2 separate regions of the Homo sapiens genome follow, and region 2 is linked to region 1. A link means that fine-mapping ties the variant in region 1 to the expression of a gene that starts in the linked region. Tissue or cell type: nasal epithelium. Region 1 holds a variant in brackets; the other region holds the start of a gene. All regions are shown on one strand. Distances are from middle to middle.

Region 1 (4,256 bases):
GTTTAAAAAGGTTCACTTTGGGAGTGGGGAACACAGGGGCCACTTCTCTGCACTATAAACTTTCTGCCTTCCAATATCTTTTTTTTTTTTTGAGATGGAGTCTCACTCTTGTCACCCAGGCTGCAGTGCAGTGGAACGATCTCAGCTTACTGCAGCCTCCTCCCCCAGGGTTCAAGCGATTCTCGTGCCTCAGCCTCCTGAGTAGCTGGTACTACAGCCGTGTGCCACCACACCCAGATAATTTTTTTATTTTTAGTAGAGACAATTTTCAACATGTTGACCGGTCTGGTTTTGAACTCGCCTGGCCTGCCTTCCCATATCTTAAGGCCCTTCCTTGCTCACATCTGTTTCAATGGAATGAATTTTGCCCGGGTTCAAATTCAAGCTTTTGTACCAAGTAATACATAGGAAACACTCAGTGACTTGCATTTGTGATTTCCTTATTTTCCCTTAACTCATAGACTGTCTCATGATTGCGTCTTCCTCCGTTGTTTTAGGCATCCGTGTCATTCTGGACCTTACTCCCAACTACCGGGGTGAGAACTCGTGGTTCTCCACTCAGGTTGACACTGTGGCCACCAAGGTGAAGGTGAGTGTTGGAGCTGATGGCTGGTGGAAGTCAGATGCTGGGGCTGGGACAGTCCTTTCACAGCAAGCCCTGTAGACCCAGCCTGACTCCAGCTGAGGGTCCCTTTGCTCCTTAGGACCAAGGAGGAATGCCTCCTCCTATAGCCAAAGGATAGGCCAATAGCACACCTGTTTTTCTTGTTCCTTTTCTGACCTCTTATTTTTCTTATTTCCTTGACTCTGAGGATGAGACAGTGCCAGGAAGGGACCTTCTCAGAAGTCAGTCTGGAAGTTTGATTTTTCTTTCTTTTGGGAGAGGAAGCCCTTTCTCTGTGAGAATCCTGTCCTGACTGGTTTCCCAGTTCTTGTTTGATGTGTTTGGAATAGAGCCCAGTCTGAAATTATAAGCACTGGGGTACTCCTATGTGTCTGGGACTCTATGCCAAGTATTTTATAGATGTTTTCTAATTCTCTGTATAACCATACAAGGTATATAATTTGCCATAGGTTCAAATGTGTACCCAGCAGGCTAGGAGTAGGGCTTTGAATGTCACCTAGCTCCTGATGTCTGGGTCCTAGGACACTGACCTGTTCAGAATGGGTAGAACAAAAATGGAAGCAGATACTGACACTGCTGGTAGCTGTGATTCTAAGATAGAATTCTGGACTCCCAGCATTTGGGTAGGACCCCGGGATCATCCAGTTTAGGCCTTGCCAGTTACTAGGGGACCCTTTAAAAGTTGCTGATGAGGGAATGTTTTTGGATGGTTTGGCATGAGGGGCGGTACCCTCAGATGGAAATGGAGACCAGAGGAGAGAGTACATGGCCCAGAGAAAGGGAAGAAAAGGAGAATGGGGGTGAAGTTCCACAGTGTGTGCAGGACTGCCAGGATTCCATTCAGCAGCACTGGCCTCTTTTCAAATCTAAACTGCCCTGGGGCTATGCTTTGAATTTCAATCTTTCATCCTTGGCCTTGCTCTGAGCAGTTATTGTACTCACACCTTCCCCAGGCCTCAGGAAACTGGGAGAGGGGGGATCTTGACTGACATTTTAGATCCTGTCTGCTGCTCACTGATTATGACTGTGGACGCGTCTCCCTGCTTCTCTGGGTCTGTTTCTTCATCTCTAAAATAGGTATGCTAACATTCCAATGCTAAGTGTTAAACGAAGTTATGTTTATGGACATACCTTTTCTCTGGGGCCTTTTCTGTGGCTTTCAAAGTTGAAGCTGTGTGATTTGCCAGAGGCAAGAATGAGAAGTAAAATGCTGTAGCACTAAGAAAATGAGTGGAAGGGTAGAGCTGGAGGGGTCCAAAGGCTAAGCCTTTGTAGTGCAGGTGGGGAAGACCCAGGCAAGGCACAGGACTCTCCCCAGCTCCCGGGGAAGTGTGTGGTGGGTGAGGTTTAGTGTGGGCTGGAATTTTCTGAGCCTTTTCCTGAGAACTGATGTCTGTCCTTTATTCTTCTGCCCCCTATAGGATGCTCTGGAGTTTTGGCTGCAAGCTGGCGTGGATGGGTTCCAGGTTCGGGACATAGAGAATCTGAAGGTGAGTTCCCTTTCCACATTAGGGACAAAGCTTGGGCGAGAACAGAGGGACTCAGCTAGAGCCTC[A/G]TAATATTCTCTGGTCCTTGATTCTGCTTTTTTCTTTCTAGGATGCATCCTCATTCTTGGCTGAGTGGCAAAATATCACCAAGGGCTTCAGTGAAGACAGGTGGGTGCAGGAGCCATTCTGCTGACTCAGCTCCAATGTGGGAACCCCTCAGTGGAGTGCTAGGCCTAAGAAGGGGGGATTCCTAGTCTAGAGCATTTTCTTTACCTTTATTCTTTCTTTAGCTTTTTTTTTTTTTTTTTTTTTTTTTTTTTTTTTTTGAGATGGAGTTCCGCTCTTTTTGCCCAGGCTGGGGTGCGATGGCGTGATCTTGGCTCACTGCAACCTCTGCCTCCTGGGTTCAAGCGATTCTCCTGCCTCAGCATCCCAAGTAGCTGGGATTACAGACGCGGGCCACCACACCTGGCTAATTTTGTATTTTTAGTAGAGACGGGGTTTCTCCATGTTGGTCAAGCCAGTCTCGAACTCCTGACCTCAAGTGATCCACCCGCCTCAGCCTCCCAAAGTGTTGGGATTACAGGCGTGAGCCACTGCGCCTGGCCCCATTCTTTCTTGTGCTAACCTTGAACTCCTCCCTCCCCTCTGCAGGCTCTTGATTGCGGGGACTAACTCCTCCGACCTTCAGCAGATCCTGAGCCTACTCGAATCCAACAAAGACTTGCTGTTGACTAGCTCATACCTGTCTGATTCTGGTTCTACTGGGGAGCATACAAAATCCCTAGTCACACAGTATTTGAATGCCACTGGCAATCGCTGGTGCAGCTGGAGTGTGAGTACCATGCTGGTGGGAAAGGGGGCAGATGGGAGAAGAAAGGGTTGTTGGGAGACAGAGGCAGAGGTGGGTTATGGGGCTCACTGGAGTGTCTCTCCCTGTAGTTGTCTCAGGCAAGGCTCCTGACTTCCTTCTTGCCGGCTCAACTTCTCCGACTCTACCAGCTGATGCTCTTCACCCTGCCAGGGACCCCTGTTTTCAGCTACGGGGATGAGATTGGCCTGGATGCAGCTGCCCTTCCTGGACAGGTACTGCTTGCTGTCTTTCTGTCACAGGGAGGTTGTTTATCCATCTTACAATGATGATTCTGGGGATGGCGGCACATAGACGTGAGCCTTGGGGTGAAAACGCGTTTGATTCTTAGTCAGTAGCTGAGTGGCTATGTGGCTTTGGGCAAATTATTTTACCTTTCTGAATTTTGGTCATCCCTTGTGTTACTGCATTTCTTGAAGGGTGGTTAGTATTAAATGAGGGCATGTTTTTAATGGTAATGCCTGGTACCTGGCAGATGTTTGCTATGGTAGCCACCATTCATTTATTCATTCCTTTATTCTTTGGACAGTGGGTACTGTGCTAGGCTCTGTGCCCTCAGGAGCTCATAGTTTAGTGAGGGAGCCAGATAAATAAGTGGAGAAGTACATGGCAGTGGCTGGGCACGGTGGCTCATGCCTGTAATCCTAGCACTTTGGGAGTCCAAGGTGGGTGGATCACTGGAGGTAAGGAGTTCGAAACCAGCCTAGCCAACAGGGTGAAACCCAGTCTCTACTAAAAATACAAAAATTAGCCAGGTGTGGTGGTGCACGCCTGTAGTCCCAGCTACTGGGGAGGCTGAGGCAAGAGAATCGCTTGAACCTGGAGGCAGAGGTTGCAGTGAACTGAGATTGTGCCACTGCACTTTAGCCTGGGCGGCAGAGGGAGACTCCTTCTCCAAAAAAAAAAAGAAAAGAAAAGAAAGAAAGAAATACATGGTAGGGATACTACTACAAAGGCATTCACTAGCTTTAGATACAGGGTTACTGTTGATCCCCGACTTTTTTTTTTTGTTTGTTTGTTTGTTTTTTGTTTTTGTTTTTAAGACAGCATTTCCCTATGTCGCCCAGGCTGGAGTGCAGTGGCATGATCTTGGTTCATTGCAGCCTCCGCCTCCCAGGCCGAAGTGATCATCCCACCTCAGCCTCCTGAGTAGCTGGGATATGTACCATAGATAGGTGCGTGCCATCATGCCCAGCTGATCTTTTTTTTTTTTGGAGACAGGTTCTTGCTCTGTTGATCTGGCTGGATTGCAGTGGTGCGATTATGTCTCACT
Region 2 (4,000 bases), 92 kb before region 1:
TGAATCTTGACCTCCTTGTGTGACCCTGGTTGTTACTCCATTCTAAGATTGGCGTTTTTTTTTGTTTTTTTTTTTGTAAATAGAGACAAGGTCTCGCTATGTTGCCCAGCCTGGGCTCGAGCAGTGCTCCTGCCTCACCCTCCCAAAGTGCTGGGATTACAACAGGTGTGAACCAACACACCTGGCTCCCCAAGGTTCAGTTTTTATCCTCCTCTTGGAGAGGTGAGTGACTTGAGGTCATTTCTTCACAAGCTCCGGTAGGCACCCACAGTATTGTCAAAGAGTTTTGTGTTAGGGAAGTGTCCAGTTTTGTCCAAGAGGAAATAGAAGCGTCGGCCTTTGACTTTCAGAGGTAGCATGGCAGGGACTTCACCCCGGTGGGCCATGCAAGATACCTGCTTCAAAGGAACTGTGAAATGGGCCCCCAAGCCAAAGGGGGCATGAGTGGTGAGGGTCACCTGCTGCCCTCCAGCTCGAAGCACCACTGAGCGCACAGACCGGAGAGAGAAGAGAAGACCAGCACCGAGTACGAGGGCTCCTGCAGGCAGGGCAGAGATTGGGGTGAGGGGTTTTCACTGGGCATCTAAGTACCGACCTTTCCAGTGCCCTCTGAATAAGAAATTTGTGGGATGAAAGTAGTATTTACTGAGCGCTTTTTTTTTTGAGACTGAGTCTCACTCTGCCGGCCAGGCTGGAGTGCAGTACTGAGCTCCTGTTATACCCAGTAATCTTGTTATTCCTCCCAACAACCTTAATAGATGTCCGTTTCCATTTTAATGGGAAGATGGAGAGCTTTAAGGACCTTGCTCAAGGTCGCAGAGTGAAGGGCAGCCCTCAGCCTAGGCTATGACAGGGCACGGCGCTCGGAGACATCACTGTTTCCCAATTTTTTTTTTTGAGAGGGGAGTCTCGCTCGGTCGCTTAGGCTGGAGTGCAGTGGCGTCATCTCGGCTCACTGCAACCTCCGCCTCCCAGGTTCAATTGATTCTCCTGCCTCAGCCTCCCGAGTAGCTGGGACTACAGGCGCTTGCTACCACGCCCAGCTAATTTTTTGTATTTTTAGTAGACACAGGGTTTGACGGTGTTAGCCAGGATGGTCTGGATGTCCTGACCTAGTGATCCGCCCGCCTCCGGCCTCCCAGCATTTGAGCCGCCGCGCCCGGCCAGTGTTTCACATTTCTGTGGGGTAAAGCCCGCCCGCCACTCTCGGATAGGGAGTCCCTGACTCTCCCTGCCTGTATAGGGAAGGTCGTGTCCCGCCACCCCACGTTGTCACAGTGGGAAGCCAGCCCACGTCTTACCGATGGCGCCGCAGCCGACGGCCAGACCGTAGCGCCAGAGCGCGGAGCGCAGGTCGAAGGGGCCACGATTTGGGACCTCCGCATCCAGAGGCTGCACCGGAACCGGGGGCCGGGACACGGCTGCCACAGCCATGGAAGCCCAGAAGACGCCCTGGCCCGCGCAGAACAGCCCGAGGATGGTGAAGAAGCGGCCCCGATCATGCTCAAAGAGCAGCACATCCCGTTGCAGCGTCGTGCCTTGCAGGGGCCGGCAGGTGAGCAGGGGCCGCAGCACGGCTAGCAGCCCCGTGGGCCATCGCCTCCAAGGCGCCGCCATGGCCAGCCGACTTCCGGGGTGGGGCTTCCTGCCGCAGAGCCGCCTTCCGCCCTCCCTGGGCGCCCCCGCTAGAGGGCCCGCCCCCCTCGCTCAGGGCTGGGAGGAGACAACCAATCCAGCACGCAGAACACGAAATACAACATCACTCTTTATATTAAAAAGTGCAGAACACGAAATACAACATCACTCTTTATATTAAAAAGTAAGGAGGTCCTGGGGTTAAGTACACAAAGCACCTAAGTCCTTCGGGTAGTTTAGTGTCAGTTCTACAAAGTAAGCTTTGGCTTCCTGGCACCAGTGAGGCTCAATCTTCTGAAGTCTTCCAGAAGGCAGGCGAGGAGAGGGATCAGGCAGCCCTCCCTCCCTCGGTCACAGTCACGGGGCGGCCTCGGGCCAGACAGGAGGAGATGACAGACGACAACCAGACGGTAATATCCAAGGACTATTTACAGGGGGGACTGCTTCTGAGGCATGACTACGATCACTTCATGAATGCCACTTCTGGGATCTCGCCCTTGGCCTGGAGAAAAATGAAGGTCAGTAGAGGTAGGCCTACCCTCGCCACTCAGCAACCCCACTCAGCTAACCTGACCTCCTGGAGGCCCAGAGATCCTAGTCTTTTTGCCACTGTATTTCCAGACCTTACCTTGAGATGAGTGAAGGCCTGGGCAGATCTGGTGTAGTCCCAGTTGTTGTCCTGAAGGCACCTGGAGTGGAAGAACAGGCAGCTCTGTAAGAACTCTGACTCGTAAATGCCAGCTGAAAGTCCACTCCATAAAAGCACCCAAGTTTGCCAACAAATATGTACATTCTTATACATCCTTGCACTATTTATACAAATGAGACATTAGTAAAAGTCCAGATGTTCTACCAATGGCTTCTCAAAGATAAGGAATATTAAATAGCTGTCAAGAAGCTCAAGATAGTTTTTACAGTGGTAGGGAAAGATGTTCATGGTGTAAGTAAAGAAACTAAGTTGCAGAACAGTATATGAAAAGGAACTTCCATTTTACCTTTAAAGTTTTTTATGTTAATTTATACACAGGCAAATTTTTTATAGACTATCAGGTTTGTGTTTTTCTGTTTGCTTTTTTTTTTTTTTTGAGACCGAGTCTTGCTCTGTCACCAGGCTGGAGTGCAGTGGCGTGATCTCGGCTCACTGCAACCTCCGCCTTCCAGGTTCAAGCAATTCTCCTGCCTCAGCCTCCCGAGTAGTTGGGACTACAGGCGTGGAACGCCAAGCCCCGCTAATTTTTGTATTTTTAGTAGAGACGAGATTTCACCATGTTGTCCAGGATGGTCTTGATCTCTTGACCTCGTGATCTGGCCGCCTCAGCCTCCCAAAGTGCTGGGATTACAGGTGTGAGCCACCTCTCCCAGCCAACTATTAGGTTTTTTTAAGCAGCCAAAAGTTTTGCCTTTTAAAATTTCAGGAGCCCAGGCACAGTAACTCACACCTATAACCGCAGCACTTTGGGAGGCCTAGGTGGGCAACATGGTGAAACCCCATCTCTGCAAAGAAATACAAAAAAATTAGCCAGGTGCTGTGGCCTATGCCTGTAGTCCCAGCTACTCAGGTGGCTGAGGTGGGAGAATCACCTGAGCCCTAGCAGTTGAGGCTGCAGTGAACTGTGATCACACCACTGTACTCCAGCCTGGGCATCAGAGTGAGACCCTGTCTCAAAACAAACAAGCAAATAAAAATTTGGCTGGGTGCAGTGCCTCATGCCTGTAATCCCAGCACTTTGGGAGGCCGAGGTAGGCAGATCACAAGGTCAGGAGTTCGAGACCAGCCTGGCCAACATGATGAAAGCCCGTCTCTACTAAAAAAAAAAAAAAAAAAAAAAAATACAAAAATTAGCCAGGCATGGTGGTGTGTGCCTGTAATCCCAGCTACTCGGGAGGCTGAGATTGGAGAATTGCTTGAACCCGGGAGGCAGAGGTTACAATGAGCCAAGATCGCACCACTGCACTCCAGCCTGGGCAACATAGCAAGACTCCACCTCCAAAAAAAAAAAATAATAAAATAAAATAAGGTGGCACATGCCTATAGGCCCAGCTACTCTGGAGGCTGAGGTGGGAGGACAGCTTGTGCCCAGGAATTAGAGGCTACAGTGAGTTATGATCACCACTATACTCCAGCCTGGATGACAGCGCAAGAACTTGTCTCCAAAAAAAAAACAAAAAAACTGTCAGGAGCCCTCATTATTTACTACTAGCCCTACTTCAGTGCATCCCCATCCTACACATGCCCCGCACTCACTTCTGGGACCACTCGAGGTTCATGCCAGACTGGGTAGAGAATGCTTGCAACATTTCCTGCTGCTCTGGAGAGAGGGTGGGCACCGGGCTGGAGGAAGGCGTGGGTGCAGGCATAGCGAAG

Evidence for each region. PIP is the estimated chance that this variant, and not a neighbour inherited with it, causes the effect.
Region 2: TMEM223 starts here. The variant in region 1 is fine-mapped to the expression of TMEM223 in nasal epithelium (TOPMed, PIP 0.97).

The regions. Positions count from the first base shown.
Region 1 is chr11:62,882,411-62,886,666 of GRCh38, forward strand. SLC3A2 (solute carrier family 3 member 2) reads left to right here. Exons shown (of 9, transcript NM_001013251.3): 3 at 498-589; 4 at 2,047-2,115; 5 at 2,222-2,280; 6 at 2,767-2,947; 7 at 3,055-3,198. Among named protein-coding and RNA genes, the nearest start is that of SLC3A2, 3.6 kb to the left of the region's middle. The variant A/G (reference allele first, on the strand shown) is at 2,181.
Region 2 is chr11:62,790,378-62,794,377 of GRCh38, forward strand. TMEM223 (transmembrane protein 223) reads right to left here and starts at 1,629. Exons shown (of 2, transcript NM_001080501.3): 1 at 1,302-1,629; 2 at 1-538. The coding sequence starts at 1,617. The coding sequence ends at 246. TMEM179B (transmembrane protein 179B) reads left to right here. Exons shown (of 5, transcript NM_199337.3): 5 at 1-23. NXF1 (nuclear RNA export factor 1) reads right to left here. Exons shown (of 21, transcript NM_006362.5): 19 at 3,881-4,000; 20 at 2,264-2,324; 21 at 1,753-2,137. The coding sequence ends at 2,099. MIR6514 (microRNA 6514) reads right to left here and starts at 2,394; the gene lies at 2,325-2,394. RefSeq lists an enhancer at 1,029-1,538 and a silencer at 1,609-1,758.